Homo sapiens: one gene and its partner. The protein of the gene in region 2 purifies or fractionates together with the protein of the main gene of each other region. This does not show direct contact. Each region holds a gene or a part of one and is shown on either strand. Other genes may lie near its edges.

The links.
Region 1: the proteins of PADI1 (region 2) and STAP2 purify together in Homo sapiens (affinity purification with mass spectrometry; 2 studies listed by BioGRID and IntAct, with this or other methods). This does not show direct contact.

Annotation. Positions count from the first base shown.
Region 1 is NC_000019.10:4,325,200-4,329,109, forward strand, and holds part of STAP2 (signal-transducing adaptor protein 2), read right to left. Parts: intron 3,611-3,910; coding exon 3,476-3,610; intron 2,187-3,475; coding exon 2,117-2,186; intron 2,028-2,116; coding exon 1,925-2,027; intron 1,809-1,924; coding exon 1,743-1,808; intron 347-1,742; coding exon 197-346; intron 110-196; coding exon 17-109; intron 1-16. UniProt on the Homo sapiens protein: Substrate of protein kinase PTK6. May play a regulatory role in the acute-phase response in systemic inflammation and may modulate STAT3 activity.
Region 2 is NC_000001.11:17,202,904-17,206,813, forward strand, and holds the start of PADI1 (protein-arginine deiminase type-1), read left to right. Parts: upstream 1-2,224; 5' UTR 2,225-2,314; coding exon 2,315-2,406; intron 2,407-3,910. UniProt on the Homo sapiens protein: Catalyzes the deimination of arginine residues of proteins.

The DNA of each region.
Region 1 (3,910 bases), on a different chromosome or scaffold from region 2:
TGGGGGGGACCCCAACCTGGCTTGGGTCCAACGGGTGGCTTTGGAAGCTTGGCAGGAGGCTTTGGCAACTTCTTTGGCTTCAGGATGACTGGCCAACTAGAGGAAGCCACTGCGTGGACAAAAGTGTAACGTGTCACATCAGCTGTTAACCTGTTTCCCCAACCCCCAGCTCTCAGCAGCTCTGTTCCCCACCCACCATCTTGGTTCTCATAGTCAACAGCTGGGCCATCTCCAATGGGGGTCACGTAGTTCTCTTCCTGGTTCGGTAGTGGGGGCAGTGGGGGCAGCTTGTCCTGGCTAGACGCAGGTGACAGCGGCTTGGGGCCACCTGTGCAGGGTGCAGGACCTGATGGGGAAACGTGGTCACTGTCAAGACCCATGTCATACAGGGACACCTTGCAGGTTGGCGGGGGGGTCTGTGTGCATGCCTGGAGACAGGCATGTGTCCCTGTGTGTCTGTGTGTGTGCCCATGTATAAGTCTGTGTCTGGGCCGGGCGCGGTGGCTCACGCCTGTAATCCCAGCACTTTGGGAGGCCAGGGTGGGCGGATCACCTGAGGTCAGGGGTTCAAGACCAGCCTGGCCAATATGGTGAAACCCCGTCTCTACTAAAAATACAAAAATTAGCTTGGCGTGGTGGCAGGCTCCTGTAATCGCAGCTACTCGGGGCTGAGGCAGGAGAATCGCTTGAACCTGGGAGGGAGAGGTTGCAGTGAGCCGAGATTGCGCCACTGCACTCCAGCCTGGGTGACAGAGCAAGACTCCATCTCAAAAAAAAAAAAAAGTCTTTGTGTGGCATACACGTGTACACTAATTGAATCTAGATAAGTTAAAGTGCAACGTTTGTACACACACACCTGTGGTGTGTATACGTGTGTGACTGCACGCCTGCTGAGGTGGCTGCTTTAGTCCTTGTCTACATGAGTGCGTTTTGCCCGTGTATCTACACGTGTCCGAGTTTGTGCCGGTGCACGGACGTATCTGCATTTATGTGTACACATGTGATTGTGGCATGACACAGGTGTATCTGTGCTACATAGCATTTGTATGTGACTGGAATTGGGGCACACGTGTATTTATGCATGTGTGATCTGTTGTGCCCGCACAAGTGTGTGTCACCTTCTGGCTAGGCAGGTGGCCACAGTTGCATGGATCATGCATGTGTAATGTGTGTGTGGATGTGGCACTTGGGGGTCCTTGCATACGCCCAGACCAGGGAAGACCAGACAACCCACGCTACATTCCTTTCTAGTGTGTTCTCTGCCTCCTCTTCCCACTCCATAAACAGGACCGATTTCCACCTCTTTCCCAACACCCACCCGGATTCTCGGTCCCTGTGGGGCTACTGCTTGTCCGGGTGTACCCTCTGACCCCTCAATGCCCATTTCTACCTAAGGAGATCCTTTGGGACCATCTGCAAAGACCCACTCTTCTGGGAAGCTTTCCCTGCTCTGCCCCCATCTTCTCCCGAACTCTAGGCGCCTCCCCCGAGCCCAGGTTTTTCCTCCACCCCAAATTCAACCCTACAGGATGAGAGTGTCTGTGTTTAGCTCTGTCCCAAGCTGGGACCCCCGCCCCCTCCCCCACACACACACCCTGACGGCAGGGTCTGAGTCATTTCTGTCCCTGCAACTTTGGGAACATCAGATGCAGGAGGTGCAGCCACCAAACTGACTGAGGGGGCGTGGCTGAATGCGGGGTCCTCGATCCCTCCCACCTCGGCCCGCGGGAAGGGGGCGTCACCTGGGCCCGGAGCGGAGGGCGCCACCCACACATTCTCGCCATTCTCCTTATCGGCTTCCACGTAGCCTGGAACAGAGAGGGCGGCCTGGAGGAAGCGCGGCGGCCAGGGGCGGCCCGGTCCGTCCGAGCGGGGGCGGGAGAGGTGAGCACTGGGCCCCCGAACTCCCCGAAGGGGCACCCACCTAGCACCTTCTCGTAGTCCTCGTCTAACAGGAATGGCACCAGCGCCTTTTTGGTATGCGACACGAAATAGTTGACCACGGCGTCCAGGGAGGTGCAAGAGAACTGGGGGCAGATGGGGGAGCGGTCAGGCTGCTGGAGAAGGGACGCGGACCCCACAAAGTCACTTCTAGGGACTCTGGCCCAACGCTCACCGGCTGTTCCACATCGATCACGTACTTGGGGCCCTCCCGCTTCACCTTGTAATGCCGGACCACGTGCGTCCTGCACCAGGAGAAAGCGAGTGAGTGGCTCAGCCCAGGCTCCCACACCGCCCCTCAGGGAAGGCCCCGCCCCAACTCCAGGCTCCGCCTCCAATAGAAACAGGTCCATACTGGCTCCGCCCCCACAGAAGGCCCCGCCACTGACTGGTTCCACCCCATAAAGGACCTAAGCCCCGTTGACCTCCCGGAGCACTGACTGCCCGATCCCAGCACTGCTCCCAGCGGGGACCAGGCCCGACCGACCCACCCCCACAGAAGACCCCACCTCTAGTCTTGGCACCACCTCCAGCGAGGGACCAGGCCAGACTGACAACACCCTAGGAAAGGTCCGCCCCTAATTCTGGCACCGCGCCTAGGGAGAACCAGGCCCTAAAGACCCCGCCCCAGGTAGGCCCCGCCCCCTGTAATGGCTCCACCCCCAGGCACCGACTCTACCTTCTACATCGCCTTGCCCAACCCTGGACTGGGCTTGAGAATTTGGCATAAGGCTCTGACTTCGCCCCCAGGGCTGGCTCCGCCTCCATAGCCCTACTCAACTTCCAAAAAGGATCACGGCCATGACTCCCCCCCGTAGATCCTGACGCTGCCCAAAGAGCCCATTCCCATCCCTGGATTTGACTTCATCCCCTCCAGTGGCCCAGACCTGGCCCCTGCGTACCTGACGTTCCGGAGGGGCCGATCCTAACCTAGGAGTCTGACTCCACCTACAGGGAGTCCCAGCTCCTAACCCAAGACCTGGCTCTTCCTGCAAAGGAGTCGGCCTGGGCTCTACCTTCTTCCCTAGGCATTAACCCCATACCTGGGGCAAGGCCAGCCTCAGGATCCCACGACCCCGGAGCTCTGATCCCGCCCCCAGCCCTCCCTGCCCAGCTCTGACTCCGCCCCCATGCTCCCCTGCCTAGCATTGACTCCACCCCTCCCCCAGCCCGCCCACCCCAGCTCTGACTCCGCCCCAACACGCCCAGCGTAGCTCTGATTCCGCCACCAGTGTACTCTGCTCAGCTCTGACTCCACCCGCCCCAGCTCGCCCAGCCCAGCTCTGACTCCTCCCCCAATCCGCCCAGCCCAGCTCTGACTCCTCCCCCAATCCGCCCACCTCAGCTCTGACTCCTCCCCCAATCCGCCCAGCTCAGCTCTGACTCCGTCCCCAGACGCCCGTCTCGGCTCTGGCTCCGTCCCCTGGCCTACCCACTAGCGGGTCGGACTCCGCCCCTGCTTCTGACCACGCCCCCGCGCCCACCCTCTTCCCACCCTCCTCCCACCCAGGGCTCTCCAGACGCGCATGCGCACCCGTTGTGCATCTGCCGCGTGGTGACCGACACGCCGTCGGCGCCGTCCCCGCTGGGCCGCAGCAGCAGGTTCCCGCACTCGGGGTAGCGCTCCAGGAGCAGTTGTGCCTCCAGCCGGCTCACCTTCAGGAAGCACCTGTGGCGGGCCGCGTCACCCACTCGGGACCCCGGAGACCAAGTCCGCTCTTCTGCACGTAAACCCTGCCTCCTCTGAGACCCAGCCCCATCCCCATCCCCTAGGCCCAGGAGACCCTGCCCTGCTCTCCAGACCCAGGCCCCTCCCACGGAGACCCAGTCCGGCCTTCCAGGCTCCTAGTTTTTGTGGGGTTTTTTGTTTTTTTTTTGAGACAGGGTTTCGCTCTTGTTGCCCAGGCTGGAGTGCAATGGCGCTATCTCGGCTCACCGCAACCTCCGCCTCCCGGGTTCAAGCGATTCC
Region 2 (3,910 bases):
TATATGTGTTTGCATCACCATTATTGTTGTCATCATCACCATCATCACCATCATCATCATCATCATCTTTTTAGACAGCTCTTTATGCACCAGCCTGCCTTTCTTCCTGCCTCCCTTTTTCCTATCGTTCACCTATCCATCTGTCTGTCCATCCATCCATCCACCCACACATCCATCCATCCATCCACCCACACATCCATCCATCCATCCATCCATCCATTTAATCTTCTCTAATGGGAACACACCCATGTGCTCTGCAGGAAACTGCTTGTTCCACTCTGCATTCCATTCCATAAGAAATGGACACGTTTATGTCAATAAATGCTGTTAAACAAAATGACTGAGGTCCTGGTAAATTGAGGTTTGGGGTTTGGGTGATGGAAAACCATCCCTGAACACCTGTTTCCCTGGGTTCTGTATCCATGGGGTAAAATTAGACTTTGTCTTGGTGACTTCAGGTGTAATGAACTTTGCAGATCAATAACATTTGCAATAAGAAAGATGGTTTCAAAAATATCTTCAAAATCAAAAGTAACCAAATAAATGTTTATGCCATTTTACTATTTCCTGCCTCCCTAATCAGGCTGGGGTTCCTGCAGCCAGGGACTGTGTGTCCCCCACATCTTCCATCAGACTGACAACTCCTCAGGCAAGGCTGTTTCTCTCTCTCTCTCTCTCTCTCTTTCTTGCTCTTTGCTGCCCTGCCACCCCAGCCCTGTGGACACTAGAGTTCTGGTTTATGTGCCCCTTTTCCCACTCTGTATAAGAGCCCCCTGGAAGAAGAGGACCACATTACTGAGGATGGGTGTCCTGCGATTCCAGAGCAAACGGCTCTTCTCATCACCCCCAATGCCCGATATGAAGGGAACACGTCACCTGCAATTCACCACCTCTACCCCAAGCTCTAACAGACATCTCATGTCGAACAAGTCCAACAGAGAATGGCCAAGCTCCCTGCCCAGCTTGCCCTCCTGCAGCCTTCCCTATCTCTCTGATGACAACTCCATCCTTCTAGTTGCTCGGGTCCCAAATACTCCAGTGATCGTTGACCACTCTCTCTCACACCCACATCCAACTCATCAGCAAACCTCATCGGCTCTACCTTCAAGATACATTCAGGATCCAACCACTTCCCACCACCTTCCCTGTTACCCTGGGACCAAGCCATGCCATCCCTCGCTTAGATAATGGGAAGAACCTTAATGCACCATCTGATGTCATACACACTTTACTCATTTAACTTCACCTACGGTCTGTCTCCCCCAGAATATAAATGTCGTCAGAGCAGGAATCATGGTCTCTTTTGTTCATAGTTGTATCCCTATCACCTAAATGAGTGCCTGACACATAAAAGATGATTAACAAACACTTGTCAAATTAACAAATGAAGTTCTACAAAGAGCCTCAGAACAGGCTGAAGCTTGCTGTGCTGAGCTGAAAGAAGAGGGATTTTCAGAAATGAGTCCACGCTCCCAGGTCATTGCTCTGAGCTCTTTTTCAAGTTCCCTCCTCTCTGGCTCCCCAAGAATGCTTGCCTGGGGTGGCTTCTGCTGTCTGTGGAGTCTGGGCACAAGGGCCTACCCTCACCTGTTGGGGGGTGGTATTGTGTGGCGAGACGGGTGAACCTGCGTGGAAGTTATAACTCTACCACTTACTAGCAGTGAGACCTGCAGCCATGGTTCTCTTACCTGCAAAATGAGGATAAAAGTCATAATTGTTAGTGTTTTAGTGAACACAGGTGCCAGGAGCTGTGCTAATCTTCTTACACATAACTCATGTCTTTCCCACATCAACACAATGGGACAGGTACTACTGTTACAGCTGCCAACTTACACATGAGGCAGCTGAGTCACAGAGAGGTTAAAAGGTTTGATAAGGATCACAGGTGGTTATAGGCAGAGCCCGCACATAGTCAGCCCACAGAAACACTGACATCATTGTAATAGGGGTTCAGGCACCAGGAGTCTTTGGAGGGGAGGGCAGAGGCTGCTGGGGAGCTCTGGAGGGTCTCCTGTCAGCAGGTGAGTCCTGCTTCGCCCGGGGCCCCCAGTTGAAGCTCCCCTTCCCCATCTCCCAGACAGGCCTTGGGCACCTCCTCCCCTGACCTCCTGGATTGACAGCCCTGAGTGAGGAGGGTGTGGAGCCAGGAGGTGGGGACCAGGCTCAGCCAGGCTAATCAGGTCGCAGGGTGAAATTTAAAGGGAGGAGGAGGCACCAGTCCATCAGAACTCACACTTCTTCCTGGCAAAGAAGTGCCCAGGACGGGAGCTGGGGAGCCAGGGCTGATCTAGGAGGCTGGGAGCCAGGTGACAGGATGGCCCCAAAGAGAGTTGTGCAGCTGTCCCTGAAGATGCCTACCCATGCCGTGTGTGTGGTGGGAGTCGAGGCACATGTGGACATTCACAGGTAAGAGCTGGGAGGCGCTCTCCTGGCTGCAGAGAGCTGGGTTAGAGTGTAAGTCAATGGGGTGGGTGCCTGGTAGACAAGTCAGGCACGTTGGAAAGGATGCTGGCAGGAGATAGCAGAGAAGGTGGAGTTGGCTGTGGAGTCTGGAAGGAAGGAACTAGGGTCTAGTCAGGTCCTCCTTGGGGCCCCAGCTCCTGGGCACTGGGCTCAGGACATTGGCTTCAATCCCCTGGGTAAGAGTCCAGCCTTAGATTTCTAACTCTGAGCCCTGGGGTCAGGCTTTGGGGTCTGGGCCCTGCATTCTGACACCTAGGTAGAACTTGTGTGGAACATCAGATGGCTCAAGATGGGGAAGAGAACTGGTTCCCACCTCCCTCAATTTCTTGCCAAGCCCCCATCTCTTTGAGGTGAAGGGACGTGTGTGGTAGCTTGACCCTTGGAGGTCAGCCAGAGATAACTAGATTGATTCCAATCAGGAGGGAGTGGTTAGGAAATACTCGATGAATTAATATGAAGAGAGAACCTGGAGCAAGACGGCTGGGACTTATGTTTGCTGTGAGATGATGGTGATGACGCTGATTATGGTGATGAACAGTGATGATGGCGATGATGGCGGTGATGGTGGCAATGATGACATCTGAGGGGGCATCAGTAGCATTTGCTTCTCCTGTTGACCCAAATCTTTCCTGTGCTGGCTGTGTCCAGATGGGGACTCGGGGACTCAGCCTTAGTTTCCCTACCTGGCCACTAAGGGAATTGGATTTGGTGATCTCTGGTGGCATTTCCAACTCTGAGAGGCTGTCTATGGATTCCATCCCTGCTGGAGCAGGTGGGGCTGAACCCCTTGCAGATAGGGGGCTCGTGGTGGGAGTCTCCCTCAAAGAGGAGCTGGGTGCTGGGGGTCTGTTACTGGGTGAGATCTGAGCTCCTTTCTCCCTCTTGGGACTCAGCCCCTGTACCTGCTGGTCTGGTTAATGTATGTGGGGCCCAGGGCCAGCTGCCCACCTGGCCTCTGGTGATCCTCTGCTCGAGAAGCCCTTCCTGCTTCTCTGTTGGGCAGTGGTCTGTGACCCCGGTGGCAGGGCTGGGGAGGAAAACCAGGAGCCATGGAAACCAAACCTTGACTCTAAGTTGCTGCTGGGAGCCCCGCTGTGGGGGCTGGTTCTCTCGGGTCTAGGTGGCCAGCAGAGACCCCATTGTCTCTTGCCCTGTTAACATAGGCTTGCCAGATTTAGCAAATAAAAATACAGGATGCCTGGTTAAGTTTGAATTTCAGATAAAAAACAAAAAGCTTTTTTAGTATATTGCATGGGAGATATTTCTACTAAAATAATCTGCTGTTTAGCTGAAGCTGAAGTCTTTTTTTTCTTTTTCTTTTTTTTTTTTTTTTTTTTTGAGATGGAGTCTCGCTCTGTCACCCAGGCTGGAGTGCAGTGGCGAGATCTTTGCTCACTGCAACCTCCACCTCCCGGGTTCAATTCTCTGCCGCAGCCTCCAGAGTAGC